4 linked regions of the Homo sapiens genome follow. The protein of the gene in region 3 purifies or fractionates together with the protein of the main gene of each other region. This does not show direct contact. Each region holds a gene or a part of one and is shown on either strand. Other genes may lie near its edges.

The links.
Region 1: the proteins of BUD23 (region 3) and NOP14 purify together in Homo sapiens (affinity purification with mass spectrometry; one large-scale study listed by BioGRID and IntAct). This does not show direct contact.
Region 2: the proteins of BUD23 (region 3) and SRBD1 purify together in Homo sapiens (co-immunoprecipitation; one large-scale study listed by IntAct). This does not show direct contact.
Region 4: the proteins of BUD23 (region 3) and NMD3 fractionate together in Homo sapiens (co-fractionation; one large-scale study listed by BioGRID). This does not show direct contact.

The regions. Positions count from the first base shown.
Region 1 is NC_000004.12:2,949,536-2,954,463, forward strand, and holds part of NOP14 (nucleolar protein 14), read right to left. Parts: coding exon 4,889-4,928; intron 4,111-4,888; coding exon 3,976-4,110; intron 2,863-3,975; coding exon 2,740-2,862; intron 1,711-2,739; coding exon 1,579-1,710; intron 1,544-1,578; exon of another isoform or gene 679-1,543; coding exon 399-678; intron 1-398. UniProt on the Homo sapiens protein: Involved in nucleolar processing of pre-18S ribosomal RNA. Has a role in the nuclear export of 40S pre-ribosomal subunit to the cytoplasm.
Region 2 is NC_000002.12:45,387,630-45,392,145, forward strand, and holds the end of SRBD1 (S1 RNA-binding domain-containing protein 1), read right to left. Parts: intron 1,971-4,516; coding exon 1,681-1,970; 3' UTR 1,051-1,680; downstream 1-1,050.
Region 3 is NC_000007.14:73,689,233-73,694,160, reverse strand, and holds part of BUD23 (18S rRNA (guanine-N(7))-methyltransferase), read right to left. Parts: intron 3,246-4,928; coding exon 3,149-3,245; intron 1,566-3,148; coding exon 1,515-1,565; intron 833-1,514; coding exon 747-832; intron 538-746; coding exon 492-537; intron 170-491; coding exon 111-169; intron 1-110.
Region 4 is NC_000003.12:161,226,906-161,231,833, forward strand, and holds part of NMD3 (60S ribosomal export protein NMD3), read left to right. Parts: intron 1-341; coding exon 342-438; intron 439-4,928. UniProt on the Homo sapiens protein: Acts as an adapter for the XPO1/CRM1-mediated export of the 60S ribosomal subunit.

The sequences.
Region 1 (4,928 bases), on a different chromosome or scaffold from region 3:
AACACTGTATATTCCATCTAAAATGTTACGTGGCCAAACAGGAGGCCCAGGTGGGAACATGGAAGCCTTCTCGCAGATGCTCACCCACCTCCCCAGCCCTGCCCCTCTGGTCCACCACAAGAGGCTGACCATATACTAAAAGGGAGGTGAAGGTACCACTAGAGAGAGGCGCATCTGGCCCATCGGGGGCCGGCCTACAGAACCACAGTCACAAACTAAGATGACCACTCACTCTAAGACCTGGATCAGCAGACACAGGGGTGTGTCCAGGCACTCCCAAGGGCATCCTTGGTCCCCATTCCACAAATGCAACCCCTGGGAGGGAGACGAACACACACAGCTATGGCCAGGTCATAAAGGTTATCCCAGAACCTGAGGAAACCCGCGCACTTGCCCACCTGCGAACGTGTAGGGCAGCTCGTCTCTGGTAGCTTTTCCAGCTCTTTCCTTGCCGCTTATCAACCCTTTCCCAGGAGTCTGCCTCTGCTCTTTTGCTGGCTTCTCGTTTTCTTCCTCACTCTCCACGTTGGATTCCAGGTCCAAGTGGCTATCTGGGCTGTCGCTCTCCTCTGTGTCCTCCCCGCCTGAACTGTCACCTTCTTCCTCGTTGCTCTCAGGGTCACTGGCTTCCTTGCTTTGCTCTTCCTGGACATCTTCCTCGACATTCATCTTTCCATCCTACCAAGAGCGTGGAAACCACAGGGCATGAGGACAGGCGGAGACAACGCTGGACCATCTCACAGCCACATCAAGAGGCTGCCCACATCAGGGCTTTCTACGTGGTTGCAAGGAACACAAACCTGTGTGCTCCATTTGCCCACTGGCACTAGGCCTCCTGCCCACCACCCGCTTCTAGGCTATTCGAGCCGCAGGAGCTACAGGCTGCTAGAGAACCCTGCGGCAGGATGCTGGGCGCGGTTCAGCTTTTGCCAGGGAGCAGCATGGGACTGGGATTTGGAAGGTGTACAGTGGCTGCGGGCTTTAGCAGGAGGAGTGTCTACAGCACCTTCTGCTCCTCCAGGTAACCTAGTGTTTTTATCAGTATCCATTTTCCTGTGTGGATCTCTTCTGCTTGAAACCTGTCCTGCCTATTTTTCTTCCCTGGACCCTGACTGATACACTCTTAAAACGAGAAAAGGGTACCGATTTATAAAGTTCGTGAATTAAAAACTACACCAGTCATGGAAACTCAATGACATCACTCAAAGAAAATTCACAACTCTAGCCTTGAGTTAGCTCCCTCAATAGTATGATGAGGTCATGCAGATAGAATCATACAGTTATTAACAAAAGTAGTTGATGTTAACCGAGTAATCAGTTTTATCTGTGTTCCTTTGAGACAGAGAGAGAGAGTGAGAAAGAGAGCGTGAGCAAGTGAGTGCACATACTATTGTTAAAGTCTTCTCTCTAAAGTTTTAATATCTGATATACCATAAACACCCAGATAAAGAACTTTAGAGAAACTGGTTAAAAAGATTTAAAATTCCCAACTGTAATAAATCCCTAAAATGAATACCAAAAAAATGTTTTTAAATTAAAAAAAGAGAGAGAAAGAGAAAATGAAGGCAAACATCTTACTTTGTAGGAAAGCAAACGCCTGTCATCTTTATCTAGCACGAAGCCATCATTCAGATCATCTGCTGACATATGTTTTGGTTTCTTAACATTTTCATCCTCATCCTTTCCAAGCATTCTTCGAAGTCTCTCAGCCTGAGCAGGAAGGAATGAGATGTCTTAGAGCACACTCTTCCAACATATGGTGAGGGGGCCGTGCAGTCCTGCCCTGGGCAGCGGGCTGGGCCTACGGTCCTCCCAGCTCTGAGGCTGGTGCATCCAGCCTGCTTTCTGCCTGCAGTTTTCAATCAGGCATGCAAACACTAGCTAAGCAGCACATTCCTCATTTAACAAAATCAACTGTTCAAACTTTGTGGCCAATACTCTCCAGTCACCAGGCAAGCCTATTATTCTGAGGCCTTCACAGCCCAATTCTGCTGGCCAGCCCCGACTGGGACTCATCACCCCCTGCACCGAGAGAATAGGAGCCAGGACGCCAAGAGCAAGCAGCTCCACGGCCTCCACTATTTGACCACACACTGGACACGGGAAGAAGCTAGTGATGTGGTTATGTCAAAACAGCCAGCTGAGCCAGCTGTGATGGCAGCCCACACCTGTAACCCCAGCACTGTGGGAGGCCGTGGTGGGAGGATCAGCTGAGACCAGGAGTTTGAGAACAGCCTAGGCAACATAGGGAGATGCTCATCTATACAAACAATTTTTGAAAATTAGCTGGGGCCAGGCGCGGTGGCTCACACCTGTAATCCCAGCACTTTGGGAGGCCGAGGTGACTGGATCACCTGAGGTCAGGAGTTCAAGACCGCCTGGCCAACATGGCGAAATCCTATCTCTACTAAAAATACAAAAATTAGCCGGGCGTGGTGGCAGGCGCCTGTAATCCTAGCTACTCAGGAGGCTGAGGCAGGAGAATCACTTGAACCCAGGAGGTGGAGTTTGCAGTGAGCCAAGATTGTGCCACTGTACTCTAGCTGGGTGACAGAGCGAAACTCTGTCTCAAAGAAAAAAAAAAAAAAAGGTATTCATGAATAAATATAAACTTTAAATAGACTAAAATATTCCACTGATCAAACAGAGTATTCTCTTCAGCCCATCCTGCAAAATGGAGCAGAAGGGGCTGTGGACGGACAGCAGCACAGCCCTGCTCCTGAGGTGCTGCCACCCTACCTCCAGCTTCCTGAGGTGCTCCTGCTCTTCCTTTGCCAATTCTGCCTCCGTCTTCATCCTGTTAGAGGGCTGCGCCTTCATTTCAAAGCCAAGCTCGCGAACCATCATGTCATATGCATCGGGCTAAGGTAGAAAGAAGAAATTCTTCATTTTAAAAATATATTTATTTCTTATTTTACAAAAAGAAAAGATCTAGCTTCCTGGCACATTCTAGTAATGGCTAGATAATGTTATTGAAGTAGCTAAGCCACATCTACGTCTTTTCTTCTAGAGAGAAAACTGTTCTGATAAGCCCTGAGGATTGCGAAATCAGTGGACATTCGGTCACAAAGAATTTGTTTACCCCTAGAAAAATTCTCAGAATACATCTGCTTTAACGAAAACAGGCCAGGTGCAGTGGCTCACGCCTGTAATCCCAGCACTTTGGGAGGCCAAGGTGGGCAGATCACGTGAGGTCAGGAGTTTGAGATCAGCCTGGCCCAACATGGTGAAACCCTGTCTTTACTAAAAATACAAAAATTAGTCAAGCATGGTGGCACGCGCCTGTAATCCCAGCTACCCGGGAGGCTGAGGCAAGAGAATCACTTGAACCCAGGAGGTGGAGGTTGCAGTGAGGTGGAGGTTGCACTACACTCCAGCCTGGGTGACAGAGCGAGACTCCGTCTCAAACAACAACAAAAACGCTACTTATCCAGGCATTACGCCCTAAACGTGGGAAACTAAGTAAAGTAACGGTAACATCAAGGCTGACTGACAAAGATGCACAGATGACCACATGACACTAATCTGCTGGGATCTAGACTTCTCTGAGAACGCAGTTTCTTAAACAAATGCAGCATTTTCCAATAGTTTCGACTAAAGAGAATGCAGTAGGAAACAACTGTTTACAGAGGCAAAAATAAGTAAATGTATATTAAATGTATGTATTATGTATCAACAGACAAACATGTCACAGGGAAGTTCAGACACCTATTCTAACGTGTCCACCCTGAAGTACTTCTTCCATCCAGAAACACCACTTTTTTCAGTTTAATTCACCTGCAATAGAGACTCAAGTAACTGAATCTACTTCCACCCCAAGATTACACACAGCAGGTAATTCAGTATCAATGTTCAACAGAAACTTGCCCTAAAGGAGACAGGTAGAAGAGCCGTCCAGCCCCAGCCCTTTCTCTGGAGAAAGTCGGTCACCCAAGCTCAGTGAGTGAAGAGTTTGTTTCAGTACTTGGCTCCCACCTTGGGTTTTTCCTTTTTGTCTCTGTTCTCTGACTTGGGAGTTTTGTGGGACAGGAGAGTCTGAATTTCTTTCCAGTCTTGGTCTAGCTTCTCCGTGAGCTCGAGGGCATCTTCTCGTTGAGCTTGTCTCTCCCTCTGGGGAAAAAATAACAGACACACACCACATACCGTTACTACTGGACTTCAACCCAGAGGCCCAATGTCAGTGCCAAGGACACACACAGTGATCACTCAGTTGGCACCAAACGTTTCAACACAGAAAAGAGGCCAGGAGAAATGAGTATTTTAAATGCAAAGCTACCAAATCTCATCAGACGGAAATCTTTTCCTGCCATAAACCATTAATTTAGATGCTCTGAGCAGTTCACTGCAAATGAATAAAAAAGTGATTTTTTGGGCACATGTCAGATACTAAAACCAGCAACAACAAAAAACCCATCCGCGCCAGGTGCAGTGGCCCACCCTGTGCTTTAGAACTAGGCCAAGGTGGGAGAACTGCTTGAGCCTGGTCGACACAGCACGATCCCCATCTCTACAAAAAGTAATTAGCTGAGCATGGTGGCGCCCACTAGCTACTTGGGGAGCTGAGGTGGGAGGATCACTGGATCCTTGAGCCCAGGAGTTTGAGGCCACAGTGAGCTTTGATCGTGCCACTGTACTCCAGCCCGGGAAACAGAGACTACGTCTCAAAATAAAACAAAACATAAACCAAAAAAAGGCAAAAGAACCAAAACCTGTCCGAGGTATATGCTTTATGTGATTTTTAAAATTCCTACTCACAATAAATGCTTTTACTGAACTCATATAAAATATTAAACACAGCCTAAAAAGGTACAGGAAAAAAAAGCTCAAACACATTTTGGTGAGCCTGTCTTACCGTGGAGAAGATGATCAAGAACACTCACTAACCCACCTTCTCTTGTTTTGACTTGGCAATGAGCTCTTCAATCAGC
Region 2 (4,516 bases), on a different chromosome or scaffold from region 3:
TGTCCATGAAAGCTTAGCTGCCAGGTCAACAGAGCAGCTTTACACTGTCAACTTTTCTTGTTCCTATATCCGAAGTGACCAGGGAGAAGGCCTCTTCCCCCACAGAATTCGTGTGAACTTGTATCTCGAGCTTCAGAGTAAGAGTCTTCAGGTACACATCATTCATTACTGATCTATAGATTATGAACCTGGAAGAATATTGGGAGGAGTGAGTAGGAAGATCAACTTAAAGTTATAACATTAAGATATATCCACTATCAGTTAAAGACCACTAAGAAACAGAGGAAAAGCATTTCAGAAATGAAATTGCTAGGCAAATAGTTGTATATATCAAAAAAGTTGATATATGCAACTTTTAAGGAACCTACTGCATTAAAAAGATCTACATACACCAGTTGGATATGTATTTTGAAAACAGCAAACCACCAGGTAGAACTATCACGAAACATAGTCACAGTCACTACTTAGTGACTACTACTAGTTGACCATATGATTTATCATCCAAAATGGGGCACTCTGAGAATAAAAAGAGGCAATATTAAAAATTATGCCAGGACAATGGGTGTTTCCTAGGCAAATGAACAAGACTGGTCGTCTTTAGTAACTATCCCCTACTTATCACGCATGGAGAAAACCAGACACTCATTCAGTCATACAAATATCTTCATCAGGCAAATCAACAGCAGCAGCAGTAGTCAGAATGAACAGGATACCAGTCCACTGTGGGCTTTATTTTGATCCTGAATGGTCATGCTAATCCTTACCATCTCCACTAAATAAAAATGGAATAAGAGTCACTTCCTTTATATACTTGTTTTTCTTGTCCCTTCACACCTGATCTATATTTGATCTTTAAAACGGCCATTTCTATCCCCATTTGAAGTTTAATTCTGATTTAAGAAAGGACACACTCTTCTATGCTAAATCAAACAAAACCATTCTTCAAATTTTCAAAGGCTTCCCTCTTCTCCAAAGGTTGCATAAACCATATCTTTTTTCATCAAGACTGACTTCTAGGTCATTCACTGAATCAACATAGCAAAAAACAAGTCACTAGCCACAAACATTTATTGTTGGGGTCAATACGTATATCCTTTTGAGAAGTGTTTCGAGCCATTCATTTGATAACTACAAACACGTCAGAATCTGTTTTACTGGTATATTTTTGGCTTGCATGACAAGGGAAAAGAGATTATTGCAAAATTATGAATGAAGTCCAAAAGGCCTGATTAAAAAAAAATCTATAAAATGGAAGGATTAAACACTGCCCAGCCCTACTGTGTCAACAAAGACGGTACAATTCAAATCAAGAAGACAATCCCATACAAGTCCAGCAAGGCAGATGTTGGCAAGTAGAAGTTAAGCAATCTGTTATACAAAATGCAAAAGGAGTTAAAGATAAATTACAAAAAATAAAAAACAAAATTTTAGTCAGAAAACTATTACTACATAAAGCCATATAAGAATGTGTATTAGTTGTTTCCTTTAAGGGAAAAGGAAATCAAACTGTTGGTTTTCTATTTATTCAGAAGAAAAAATAAAGGAAAGTGTTTGGAAAATATTTCTGATATTAAGTGAATTATTTCTCATCTGCTACCTAGAGTTTACAAACAACTGACTTATCCTTGTCAATCTGTGGAAATGAGAAAATAAAATCAGCGTCTGGCCTTCGTGGGATACTCATAACACCCGAATGAGGTCCAGAGTAATCCTAGATCGGGGGATGTCAATGTTGAGTACTTGGACTTCCACTCTTTCTCCGGGGCCCAGTCCAAGGCTTCTTCTCTTCTTTGTTTTTGAAAGTTTTGCTTCTGTTACATTTCGTATGGGAATCAGCCCAGATTTCCCCACTCCTATATCCACAAAAATTCCAAAGAGAGTGGCATTCTCAACTTTGCCTGTAAGAACTGTCCCAATCTGCAGATCTTCCAGGCATACTATGCTTCTCTTGAAATCAGGTTTATCAAAATCTGTAAGAGAAAAAAAGTAAGTGTAAATAAGGCATTGTACTTCCTAGATACAACATAACTTTGTGAATAAGTACTTACTACATACTATGTGCCCAGACCAATATTAAAGATTAAGGGGGGATTATAAAAGGAGCTGCAGACCAACGCTTGCCTTCAGAGAACATGCATATCAGTTGGAGACAGCATTCATGCAGTAGAAACAATTCAAGAAAATTTACTTCCTTCTACAATGCTACACACTAGCATTATACATAAGGATCGAGAAGACAGTCTTATTTTCCTCTTTGTGAAGAGGTGATGAGAATATATATTTGCTTAACAAATATACAAAGCTAAACCACAAACACTGAGAAAGTAAGACCTTTGGAAACAAGAGACTGGAAGCTTTTTTTTTGGTTTTTCCCCCAGTGCCTGGATTATTAAATTGTTTAAAGATGGTAGAAAGTACATCAACTTTTGGCCAAATGTGGATGAAATTCAAATGTTCTTTCTTCCTCACTTCTTCCCACAAATTTGGAACTCAGAAAATCAATTCCCACCTATTTCATATATATTTATCCAATCAACATTTATGGATTCTTGATTATCTATGGCTCAGAATCCCAGACCAGGTAGTATCTAATATTCTTTCTCTTCTTTCAATTAAATTCATCAAACATTTGTTAACTCTATTATCTCCTGGCCAGGCACTCTGCTGGGTGCTAGAGAAACAATGATGAAGATACAGATTTCTGTTTCCAAGTTCTTTATAGCCCTTTTTTCTTGCTCACCCCAGCATACATTTCTTTGTTCATTATTGTCCAAAAGGTAGGCATAAAGCATGCCAAGGAATCATTATGGTTCTAGTTAAAAACAAAGGTTTTTATGAGGGAGACAGTTAGAGTTAGAACTAACAGTTTAAACGGGGCTGTGGATTATCTGTGGACTCCATTTATCCATGCTCCTCCTGAAGGCCCCCTTTCCTAGGATTACTGAGTGTTGACTCTAATAACAAAGAACACATTCTATGCTTGGATCTCCTTTTACTAAGGCCTCATTTTCCCCTCCACCCATTCCATTTCCTTTTCCTCCACAGCTGTTGGCTTTATCCTGATGACTTGTTAAAGCTATCCTTTACATTTGTATTAACAACTGGTCACCCCTTTCTTCCCTTCCCCCAGTCCAACCATACTGATACCAAGACGTTTTAAAAATTAAGCTTTTTCTTATAAAACAAAATAAAAACCTTCTTTAAACTCCAAATCTCACTGTACACATAAAAATGAGTACGCTAAAATTGGAATTGATTCTGTGGAATTTTACCTGATGCTAAAGCAGTGAATTCCAAAAGCAAGAAACCTACTGTAATGTAATATTACACCAGGCTAAGGCTGTGTCAAAGCAAAGTGGAACTAAGTCACTGATCAGGGGCAGAGGTAGGACGGGTCTCCGAGACCCCATAGGCATTGTTTTTATGCTTGGAAATTCTTTCTCTCTCTCTCTTTTCTTGGGGAGGTCCAGCTGCTGCAGATTCCCTAAGGGTTCCTGATCAGCTGTTTAGTTTAATCTTGCAAGGAAAATCAGAGTCAGGAACTACTTAACATATTCCTGAAGACAGTTGGGGACACTGAGAAATCAGAAAATCCTCTGTGTACCATGCAAACTTTAACACTTTCATAGCCAAGCATTTTCAGCCCCTGTGTCTGGACTGCTTCTAATAAACCCAGTTAGGGAAATTAACTAGTCACCATAGTGTTAATACACATGAAATTAATTACACCATTGACAAAACAAAAGACAGAATTATTATGAGTAAAGAATGAGGCATTAAGAAAGGAAATACTTTTGAGAAAATGGAGAAAAGAGATGTAACATAAAATATCATCACGTGGAAATGCCCAAAATACTATCTGCCCCCTCGAAAGTATAGTTTGTAAGCCTTCCTCACCTTGGGTATGTGTTTAGTAGTAAGATGAAAGTTCTCAGACATTTTGAAAATTGTGACTTACATTAGAGCAAAGGTCAGTTCCAAAGTTTTTTTAAAGAGACCTATTTAAAACTTCACTTGCCACACTGATAGAACACTGCAGTAAGTGGAAAGCTCAGTCCAGAGCCCAGATGCATCTGTCTTTTTGCTCAACAACTTGGTAGTTTAATTGGACCATATAATTTGAGTGTTGATCTTTGCTCTGAGTCTACAATGCAACTGGGATAATGGAACAATCGACACTATGACAGAAAAATGAAGATGGATGTGAAAAATCCAGTACAGGATACCTGCAGTTACAGCATTTTTTGCCAACCCTCTAATGCAAAGGGTGCAGCCATACCACCTCCAAATCCAGTATTTTTGAGAACCACTGCTCCACCTAGTACTCCTGCTAAAAACCAGCCCAGAAATTCCCATAAAAGGATACTGGGCCTCCAAATGGAGATGGATTTGTCTGCTGAAACATCCACATTGTGTGGAGGACTACTAGGAGGCTTCTACTCCCACATTTTTGGCATAGTTCTTACTGGGTGTCATTTTATTTTTCTTTAACTTAAAAAAAAACAAAACAACCCTA
Region 3 (4,928 bases):
CCCTGCTGCATGTGACCTGAGAGGCTTGGGTGAGGGCAGAGAGAAAGTCCATGTCTAACAAATGTGGCAGCCCCCGCTGCAGCCGGGGCAGGCTTCAGCAGTTGCTTTACCTCTCATTGGTGAACACAGACTCCCTGGGTTCAACTTCATCCTGATTTTCACTCAGCCCCTGCAGGAACCAAAGTGCACTCAGGTCACCCTGGAGAGTTCTCAAACCATCTGCCCCACTCCAGAAGCCCAGGCACCCAGGCCTGACCCTTCCGACAGGGACGAGGTCCAGTCCCACGAGAAGGAACTGACACGCCTTTCTGGGACCTGCAGAGCAGAGGTCTCTGCCTCCAGATTCCAGAGGATGTGAGCACTCCAGGGTCTGCACTCTGGGGCTGGGCCCTGCTTCCCCACCAGTGTTCTCCCAGCAGGCTCTGCAGGCTGAGCCCCACTGCCTGGAAGTCAAAAGACACAGGCCTGCCTGCAAACCCAGTGTCCCTCACCTCTGGTATAAAGGTCGAAGGCCCAGAAAACAAGCAGAGGTAGAATCTGAAAGGAGAAAGTGCAAAGTGAGGGTTGGGTGGAGAAAGCCCCACAGGGAGACAAGCCCTCAGCTCCCCCACCCGCACCCCCTCCGCCTGCCTGGACCCTGGTGACCCACACCCCAGCACTCCTCTGCACCACTGAGTGGCCTGAAAGGGCTATGCCACTACCCTCCCTCCTGCAGCCCAGGCAGCACACCGGCCCCCAGCGCTCACTTCTTTGCTTTGGCACTGTTAGGGTAGTCTACCACCATGCCACCGGAGAAGCCTGCCTTTGTGGCCTGGGTTGTGATCAGCTCCAACTGAGGAAAGAAAGGCAGCGGGTCAGGCAGCGGAGGTTGAGAGGAGCAGACAGCTTCACCTCCCTCCCCTCCTTCAGAAGCCAGTCTGCTCCAGGACAAATCCTGCCTGGGAGAACTTAAGGTCGCTGTAAGCCACGTAGAGAAAAGTACAGGCTAGAATCTGGCATGGCCCACACCTCCCTCAGGAGAATTACAGAACAAAGCAACTCCCCTCATTCTCACTTTCCAGTGCAGGGACCCAGCTCCCCACTCAAGTTTAGGGAGATGGCCACCAATTGGAATCCAGAGTCATTCATGTTATTAGTCAGGAACAGCTCTTCACTTATCTTTCAACATCTACATCCTACTCCGCCATTCCTTAATTTATACATCACACAACGGAGAACTGTCGGTGCCCTCTCACCCTTCCTAAATGGCATTTACTTATTTGGTTATGGAAATCAGTCGCATCACCTTATCTGTAATACCATGTCATCTGCCAAGAGAAGGCATCCCACCCCACCTCCGCAGATGCCACCCCCTTAGGATATCAGGTCATCAAATGTGCCATCAGGGGCCACACTAGGGTGCATGTTTCCTCCTTTTCCCGCCAATCTGCATAAGATTCTTTGTCGCTTCCCCAGGACAGCTTACCTGTTGAGTCCCCCAACTCCCCGGCACACCCAGTAGCCGAGGGACTCACCTGCTCTGAGTTCTCAGGGTACAGCTGCAGGACAGCTCGGGATCCCCGGACCTGAAAGAAACAGGAACATCACTGTCTTACAAATGACTGCATGAGCTTAGGGCCTGGACACCCCTCTCTTCCTTCATTCACCAAGTATTTCCTGAATTTCCATTATGTGTGAGGCATTGTTAGGGCTGGGGATAGTATGAACAAAAGAGATCACCCTGAACTTTGGAGCTCACATTTTAGTAAAGGAGGCAACTAATTCACAGTAGCAAATTTTTTCTTTGTTACAAAAAGAGGAATTAGACAAAGTGACAGAGTTTCCTTTCAGTTCAGTTTACTTTTGGTTCCAAAAAGGCCTGTTTCAAATGGATACTTGAGCAGAGATTTGAATGGAGTGAGGAGCTGGCTATTTAAACATATAAGGGAGGAGCCTTCCAGCAGGGAGAAGAGGAAACACAAAGGACCTCAGAACTAAAATATTAACCCAGTGTGCCAGGAGGAGAACTCATGTGACACACAAGACCAGCGGCCAGATAGGCAGGCGCAGTCCACCCCAGGAAAGGCCAGCGGCCACATCAGCAGGGGCAGTTCACCCCAGGAAAGACCAGCGGCCACATCAGCAGGGGCAGTTCACCCCAAGAAAGACCAGTGGCCAGATCGGCAGGTGCAGTCCACCCCAGGAAAACTAGGGGTGGGCTAGACCAGGCTAAGGAGGCAAAAACCACTCAGATCCTTCAAAACGGACTCATTTTTAAGCTGGGCACAGTGGCTTACGCCTATAATCCCATCACTTTGGGAGCCTGATGCCAGACAATTGCTTGAAGCCAGGAGTTTAACACCAGCCTGGGCAACATAGGTAGACCCCATCTCTTAAAAAAAAAAAAGTAAAAAATTAGCCTGGCATGGTGGTGTGTGCCTGTAGTCCAAACTACTTGAGAAGCTGAAGCAGGAGGATCACTTGAGCCCAGGAGTTCGAGGGCGCAGTGAGCTACGATCACACCATTGCACTCCATCCCAGGCAACAAAGCAAAAGTCTGTCTCAAAAAACAAAATTTAAAAAGAACTCATTTTTAGGACTTAAAATCTCAGACTATCAGCTAATCCTAGTGAACAACTGAAATTAACATCATTAATTTGAAGACAAAGCTAATAAAGGCTCTCTTTGCAGTAAATAACTATCCTGTTCCTCATCCGAAGAAAAGGATCAGCACTAGGAGGAGGGATAAGTGAGGAGTCAGAAGGATGTGGGCACTTTGGAAGGTACCCCTCTGGATGGTCCGGACACGACATCTCTGTCCTCACTCTGCTCAGTCCATGCCCCCAAACCAACTTCTGATTAAAACTCAGCGCAATAGACATAGGAATACCAATCAACAGAAGTAGGCCCTATTACAAGTTAATAAATTGGTCTCCGATTTTGGTATCAGTGACTTCTGGGTTTGATTAGAGTATATCAGTCCACTGAGCTTGAACTTCCATTTAGGCTGAGGACCTGGACAGAAGTAACCACAGTAAGGTCCTGCCACCCCATGCGGTCCCATATGAGTAGCTTACCCATCATGGGACACCTCAATTTCCTCACTCTACCTGCAGTGCTAGGGAGGGACAGGCAGCTAACCCAGATGGGGAGAAGATCTTATACTCACGAGAACAGAAAAAAGAGAAGCAAAAAAGCAGTACAGGCGCTTGGCAGGGTTTTCAGACTTCTTGTTAGCATTACAGAGCCACTGCACAGCAGAAATGCTAAAAAGGAAGGGACCTAGTCAGGCAACGGAGCAATCCACGTTGCTCCCCCAACCACTTCAAGCCTCTTGACATCATCCGTCCTGGCTCTCCAAGAGAAACCCCTCCTCCCACAGCTTCCCTTCTTAGAAAGTGCAGGTTGAGGCCACGTACAGTGGTTCAACGCCCTGTAATCCCAGCACTTTCTGAGGCCAAGACAGAATTGCCTGAGGCCAGGACTTCAAACCAGCCTGGACAACATAGCAAGACCCCATCTTTACTTAAAGTATTTTTAAATTTAAAAATTTAAAGACAAAAAAAGTGCAGGTCCACTGCAGGTCATGACTCTACAACACTGGAAAAATAGGACATACAGAAGGACAGCATTTATGTCCCATAGTCCCAAGAAACCTTTCCTCCACCTTGTTTCCATCTGCATCTTGAGTTGAAAAGTCCTCCGTGTCAAGGCTGTCTGCCCACACACCCCTCCTTGTTCCCTTCCTCCAATCCAAGGAAACAGGCTTTAGACTACTCACATACACACAGCCATCCCATCACCCTTCCTCCTAAATCACTCCCTTCCACTCTACCTGTTAAGTGTCTTTACAACCCCCAGATTTAAAACCTCAAGCAGCCAGGTGCATTGGCTCATACCCGTAATCCCAGCATTTTGGGAGGCTGAGATGGGTGGATCACTTGAGGTCAGGAGTTCGAGACCAGCCTGACCAACACGGTGAAACCCCGTCTCTACTAAAAATACAAAAATTAGCTGGGCTTGGTGGCATGTGCCTTGAATACCAGCTGCTCAGGTGGCTGAGGCAGAAGAATCACTTGAACCTGGGAGGCAGAGGTTGCAGTAAGCCTTGTGCCACTGTACTCCAGCCTGGACAACAGAGCAAGACTCCATCTCAAAAAATAAATAAATAAAACCTCAACCAGTCACTATGTCTTCCTTCCTGCCCTTCCCCTCCGCCCTGCTGTACACACACAGAGCCCTACCTCCACCCCACTGGCTTGTCCCACAGCCTCTCCCAACTTTCACTTCCCCGCACCAATGCTCAGTGCTACCAGCTCAAATGCTTCCACCTAACTCTCTCTCCTCTTTCACCAGAAAATCACCTTCCTTAAACACACATCTGATCCCGTCACCTGCCAACTCCCCATCATCTACTCCATCAAGCCCAAACTTCTTAGGACACACTTAAGTGCCTTCTAGGAAGCAACCACACTCAACCCCATCTTCCGTGGAATCTCTCGTTCATCCCTCTCATCTCAGACCCCTTTCCCACCGGCATCTGTGCCTCTGCCCACTGTTCCCTCACTCAGAAACCCTCTCCTTGACTATCCAAATTCCTCCCAGCCTTCAAGGTGCAGCCCCTCCACCCAAGGCTTTCCTGTGCTCTGGCAGCCCCATGACTCCCTAGGGCACACACCACTCATGCCCTTATATTCAGTTGCCTGGTCCATGTCCTAAAGCACCTAATAAACCGTGGAGAGTCTTACACGCAGAAACTGTTTCATTTCCCTGTACTCCACAGCACCTTGTACGCCTTACATGTAGCAAATGTTTAAAAAAAAAAAAAAAGTCTGGGCCGGGTGCGGTGGCTCACGCCTGTAATCCCAACACTTTGGAAGGTTGAGGCGGGCAGTTCATGAAGTCAGGAGTTCAAGACCAGCCTGGCCAACATGGTGAAACCCCATCTC
Region 4 (4,928 bases), on a different chromosome or scaffold from region 3:
ATTTTAATGCCATTTTGAGATGATTCTCACCTGTTTTTCAGAGCATAGCTTTAAGAGACTCTTGGACATTTTAGTGGTGATTTGGTGATTAAAGTAATAAGATCACTTTAGTAGGTTATTTCAGATTGACTTTCTCAGTCAGAATTTTACCTTTTTAATTAAAGCTGCTAGTCTAGTTGAAAGTTTTGGAACCATTAAAATATGTTTGAGTTAAGTGCTTCATATCATCCTTGGGTTTTATTATGCCTGGTTAATAATTTGGGTTATATCTGTGTATTCAGATGGAAATTTCTGTGTTTCCTGACAGATGTTGGATTTCAGTATGTTATCTTCTCTTTTAGGTATTTTCAACCACCAGGAACTTGGATACAGTGTGCTTTAGAATCCAGGGAACTTCTTGCTTTGTGCTTGAAAAAAATCAAAGCCCCTCTGAGTAAGGTAAGTTAAACAGCTAAAATCAGTATTCATAGGTATGTTTTCATTAAAGGTCTCATTTTCAGAAAATTCTTGTGAGTAGGTTTTTCAAAAGGAATTTTTTTTTTTTTTTTTTTTTTTGAGGTGGGGTCTTGAACTGTCACCTGGGCTAGGCTAGAGTACAATGGTGTGATCTCGGCTCACTGCAACCTCTGCCTCCCGGGTTCACACGATTCTCCTGCCTCAGCCTCCCAAGTAGCTGGGATTATAGGCGCACACCACCACATCTGGCTAATTTTTTGTATTTTTAGTAGAGACAGGGTTTCACTATGTTGGCCAGATTGGTCTCGAACTCCTGACCTCGTGATCTGCCTGCCTCGGCCTCCCAAAGTGCTGGGATTACAGGCGTGAGCCACCATGCTGGCCTCGAAAGTAACTATTAAATGTTACTATTGTTGCCAGTAGCACCCCACTACAAACACTTTTTAAAGTTATATATATTCTTTTTATGAAAAGTAAAAATATCTTTTTGCTTTAAAAAGACAGAATTTAATTTTTTTCCTTTGTTATTTATCGAGAATCTCATGTATAATTTTTTAACGGAAATTTTTATGTAAAACCATCACTAAACATAATTGGGATTATAATATTAGGGCTATGTTATTTGGTTTCTTTTTATTGTCATTATTGATCTGGAAATAAAATATTTGTGCCTGTCACTGAAAGTCAGTGCATAAATGTATTAAAAAAAATAGTTTGTTTAAAGTACAGTTTATTTCCTGATATAAAATTGAAAGTGATTGACACTATGAGTTTTCTTTATTTTAAGCTTTATGACTCACTTCTACCATGTTTTTAATTGAAATTGACTCTTTCAGATTGAAGACTTTTCTGATTCTCCTTTAAGCTCTAATAAAATTTCATGTAATAGTTCTTTGAAATTTCTGCCTTTATTTTCCTACTAGGTCCCAGCCAACCCCACAAATTTCTGATGGTCACTTTTTGGCGCTTCTGGCATAAAACTTTGTCTTTTTCCCTTCATATTTTAAAAAACCTTTTTGGTTTTTTTCGCTCCCCTCTGTTCTTGGTGATTTTTACTTTATCTTCTAATCTTTCTAATGAATTGTTTTTTTCCAGTAGTAATGTTTTTAAGTTCCAGAGTCTTTCATGTTCTTGATGCATTTTTTTTAAGTTTTTCTGAAGATTTTGATAATAGGACTTTTTTTGTTTCTTTCTGTTCCCTCATTTGTCTCTGTTTTTTTATGAAGTCAGTTTTTTGTGTGTCTTGGTTTTTTGCTTTTATACTTGGGGTTTTTGTCAAATGTCTAGTGAGTCTTAACAGTTCATTAATTAATTCATCAGATGTTTATTAAGTACCAACTCTGTGCCAAACTGCTTTTGGTGTTGGGGATATGGCAGTGAATAAGGCAATCCCTGTCTTAGAAAGCGTGTATTCTAATTGCACACTAACATGCCAGTGTGGAGCAGCATGTTAGTATGCAGCGATCAAAATAGGTGGATATATTACATGGTATATTAAAAGGTATATTCTGTGGAGAAAGGAGCTAGGAAGAGGATAAGAACTGTGCATGGAAGAGTTGAAATTTAAAGTAAGGGTGTTTAGGGGAGGGCTCACTGATAGGGTGACATTTGAGTAAACACTAAAGATTACAGTAAGGGAGGAAGCTGTGCAGAAATGTGGAGGAAGAGCATTAGGGGTAAAGAAAACAAATGTAGAGACCAAAAGCAAGAGCATACTTGTGTGAATAGAACGGAGTGGTGAGGGGAAAAGTAGTTGGGGATAGAGTCCAGAAAAGTCATGGAAGGCCACAGTGTGTCTGGCCTTGTAGGCCCTTATAGGGGCTGTTTCTTACTCTGAGTGTAAGGAGTATAGAGGGTGAAGGGCAGAGTAGTGAGATGACATGACTTATTAGTATTCCTCTGGCTGCTGTTTTTAGAATGGTTGTAAGGGAGGTAAAGGTGTTTAAGTTTTTGTAATAATCATGAGAAATGGTTTTGGATCAGCAATGGAGGTGGTAAGAAGTGGACAGATTTTGGATCTATTTTTAAGGTAGTAACATTTACTGATGTAGCTGGATGTGTTTTTGTAAGAGACAGAAGAGTTAAGGATGCCTTCCACTGTTCGTGACCTGAGCAGCCAAGTCACTGGGTAGGGGGCATGAGAGTTCATCTGTAACTGGTATTTAGATGTCTACTAGACACTTAAGTAGAAATACTGAGTAGGCAGGTTGATAAATAAGCCAATGAGTGGTCCAGTCTAGAGATAATGAATTTAGGATATAGATAGTATTTAAGGTCATGAATTGGATTAGATTATTTCAGGAGTTTACATAGAGAAGGAAAGAAACTGGAGGACTGAATCCTGGAATCATTCCTTTAATGGGTAATGATGAAGAAATAATTGGGTAATGAGGAGGAATCAGCAAAGGAGACTGAAAGGAGCTGCTAGGAGGTAGGAGGAAAACAGGGTGAGTGTGATGTCCTGGGAGGAAAGGGAAGTGTTTTAAGAAGAAAGGAGTGAGTAGCTATGTGATTTGCAGCTGATGAGTCAAGTAATGAGTTCTGTAGATTTAGTAATGTGGACGACCTTAATAACATGGGCAATTTCTGTTTAGTGGTGGTGGTAAAGATGTCATTTAAATAGAAATTAAAATGGGAGAAGGAAGATAGACAGTTCTTTTGAGATTTGCTGTAAACGAAAACAAAGAAATGGGGCAGTGGTTGAAGGGGAAGTTGGGGAAGGGACACTTGTCTTTTTATGTTATTTTATTTTTTGGAGATAAGGTCTTGCTTTATTGCTCAGGCTAGAGTGCAGTGGCGCTGTCATGTCTCACTGCAGCCTCAAACTCCTGGGCTCAGGTGATCCTTCTGCCTCAGCCTCCTAAGTAGTTGGTACTACAAACATGCACCACCACACCTGGCTGATTTTTATTTTTACTAGAGGTGAGATCTCTCTCTTTCTCTCTCTTTTTGGCCCTGTAGAGCAGAGATCTCACAATATACCCAGACTGGTGTTGAACTCCTGAGCTCAAGCGATCCTCCTGCCTCAGCTTCCCAAAGTGTTGGGATTACAAGCATGAGCCACTGTGCTTGGCCAGGATACATTTCTTAAGATGGTATATATAACTGTATTTGTAAGCTCTCTGGGAGTGTTAGAGTACGGAGGGAAATTTTTGTGAAATTGCAGGGAGAAGAATAATTGGCTGGGGGGTGGCCTCAATAAGTGGAAAAGAGATATAGTACATAGTGAAAGAATACATTTATTTGTTAATTCACTCCTTCATTCAACAAGTATTCAGCACTTACTCTTCACCAAGCACCATTTTGGGAGGCTGTAATATTTCATGGAACAAAGTAAAGATCTCTGCTCTCTAGAGGGGCATTCTGGAGGTTGATCTTGATGGGAGTATGGATAATTCATCTGTGGTAACAGCAGGGAAGGTGTTGAGTGGGAGCTTCTGGGAATTCTCCTCTGGTTCCTTCTTTTGTACTGGAGAAAACAGAAGCGTGGGCAGTAGCTATGTGGGAAGAGCTGTTAGATAGATGTTTGAGGAGAGAGCGGAAGATATGAAATAGTCCTCTAGAACTAGAGGAAATGCACCAGGACAGTGTTGGATGGGTGCTGGGCAGTGCTGAGGGTTACTGTTACAAGTTTAGACTAGTCACTGTGGTGTGCATCTATTTCTGTAGTTCTGTCAGCCACATAGTCAAGGCATAGAGCAGGCAGAGCACTGGATTTAACCAAATTTATAATTTAGCCTAGTGGCTAAGGTGAAATAAGAGAGGGAACAAGGAAATTGAGTGTGTACATGAGAATAATTTTGATTATTGATTTTGAAGCTAGTGAGGAGGAATGAGGAATAAAGTTGGTAGGATGAATGGATTGTCCATTATATTAGCTTGAAAGATATTTGGTGCCCAGGAACTAGAGGAAATAAGCTGGAAAGATGGGAGGTGGTAGTCAGGGAGTAGGATGTTTGGAATTGATAGTTTGGAGGGTTTGCAGTTACTGGTAATAGAGGCATATGAGTGACTGAGATAGGAAGGTGGATAATATTTTGGGAGAAGAAGAACTCAAAGAATGGAGTGAGAGGTCAGGGTATTGTGGGGATCACCTGTGTGGATATTGAAATCGCTAGGTATTAATATTGTTGGAAAGTGTGATGGTGAGCCAGAAGCTAAAATCTTTTGAGAAATGAAAACAAGTGATACAAAGATGAATAGATTACTATAAAAAAGAGAGTTGCGGGTGGTAGAGTCTAATGACTTTAGACTTAGAGCTGGGTATATTTGAGGAGGAGACAAGGAGAATGGTCTGTAATTAGCAATGAAGAGCAAGGACGATAGCTGTCTGGTGCCTGGTCCAGTGATAGGAAGAATCAGTTATCACTTTATATAGCTGCAGGGGAGAGAGAAATCAGGAGATCTAGAAGGTGAAGGGAATGTTCAGCAAAGTTGAGGATTTAGGAGATTTCATTGTTAATGAATGTTGA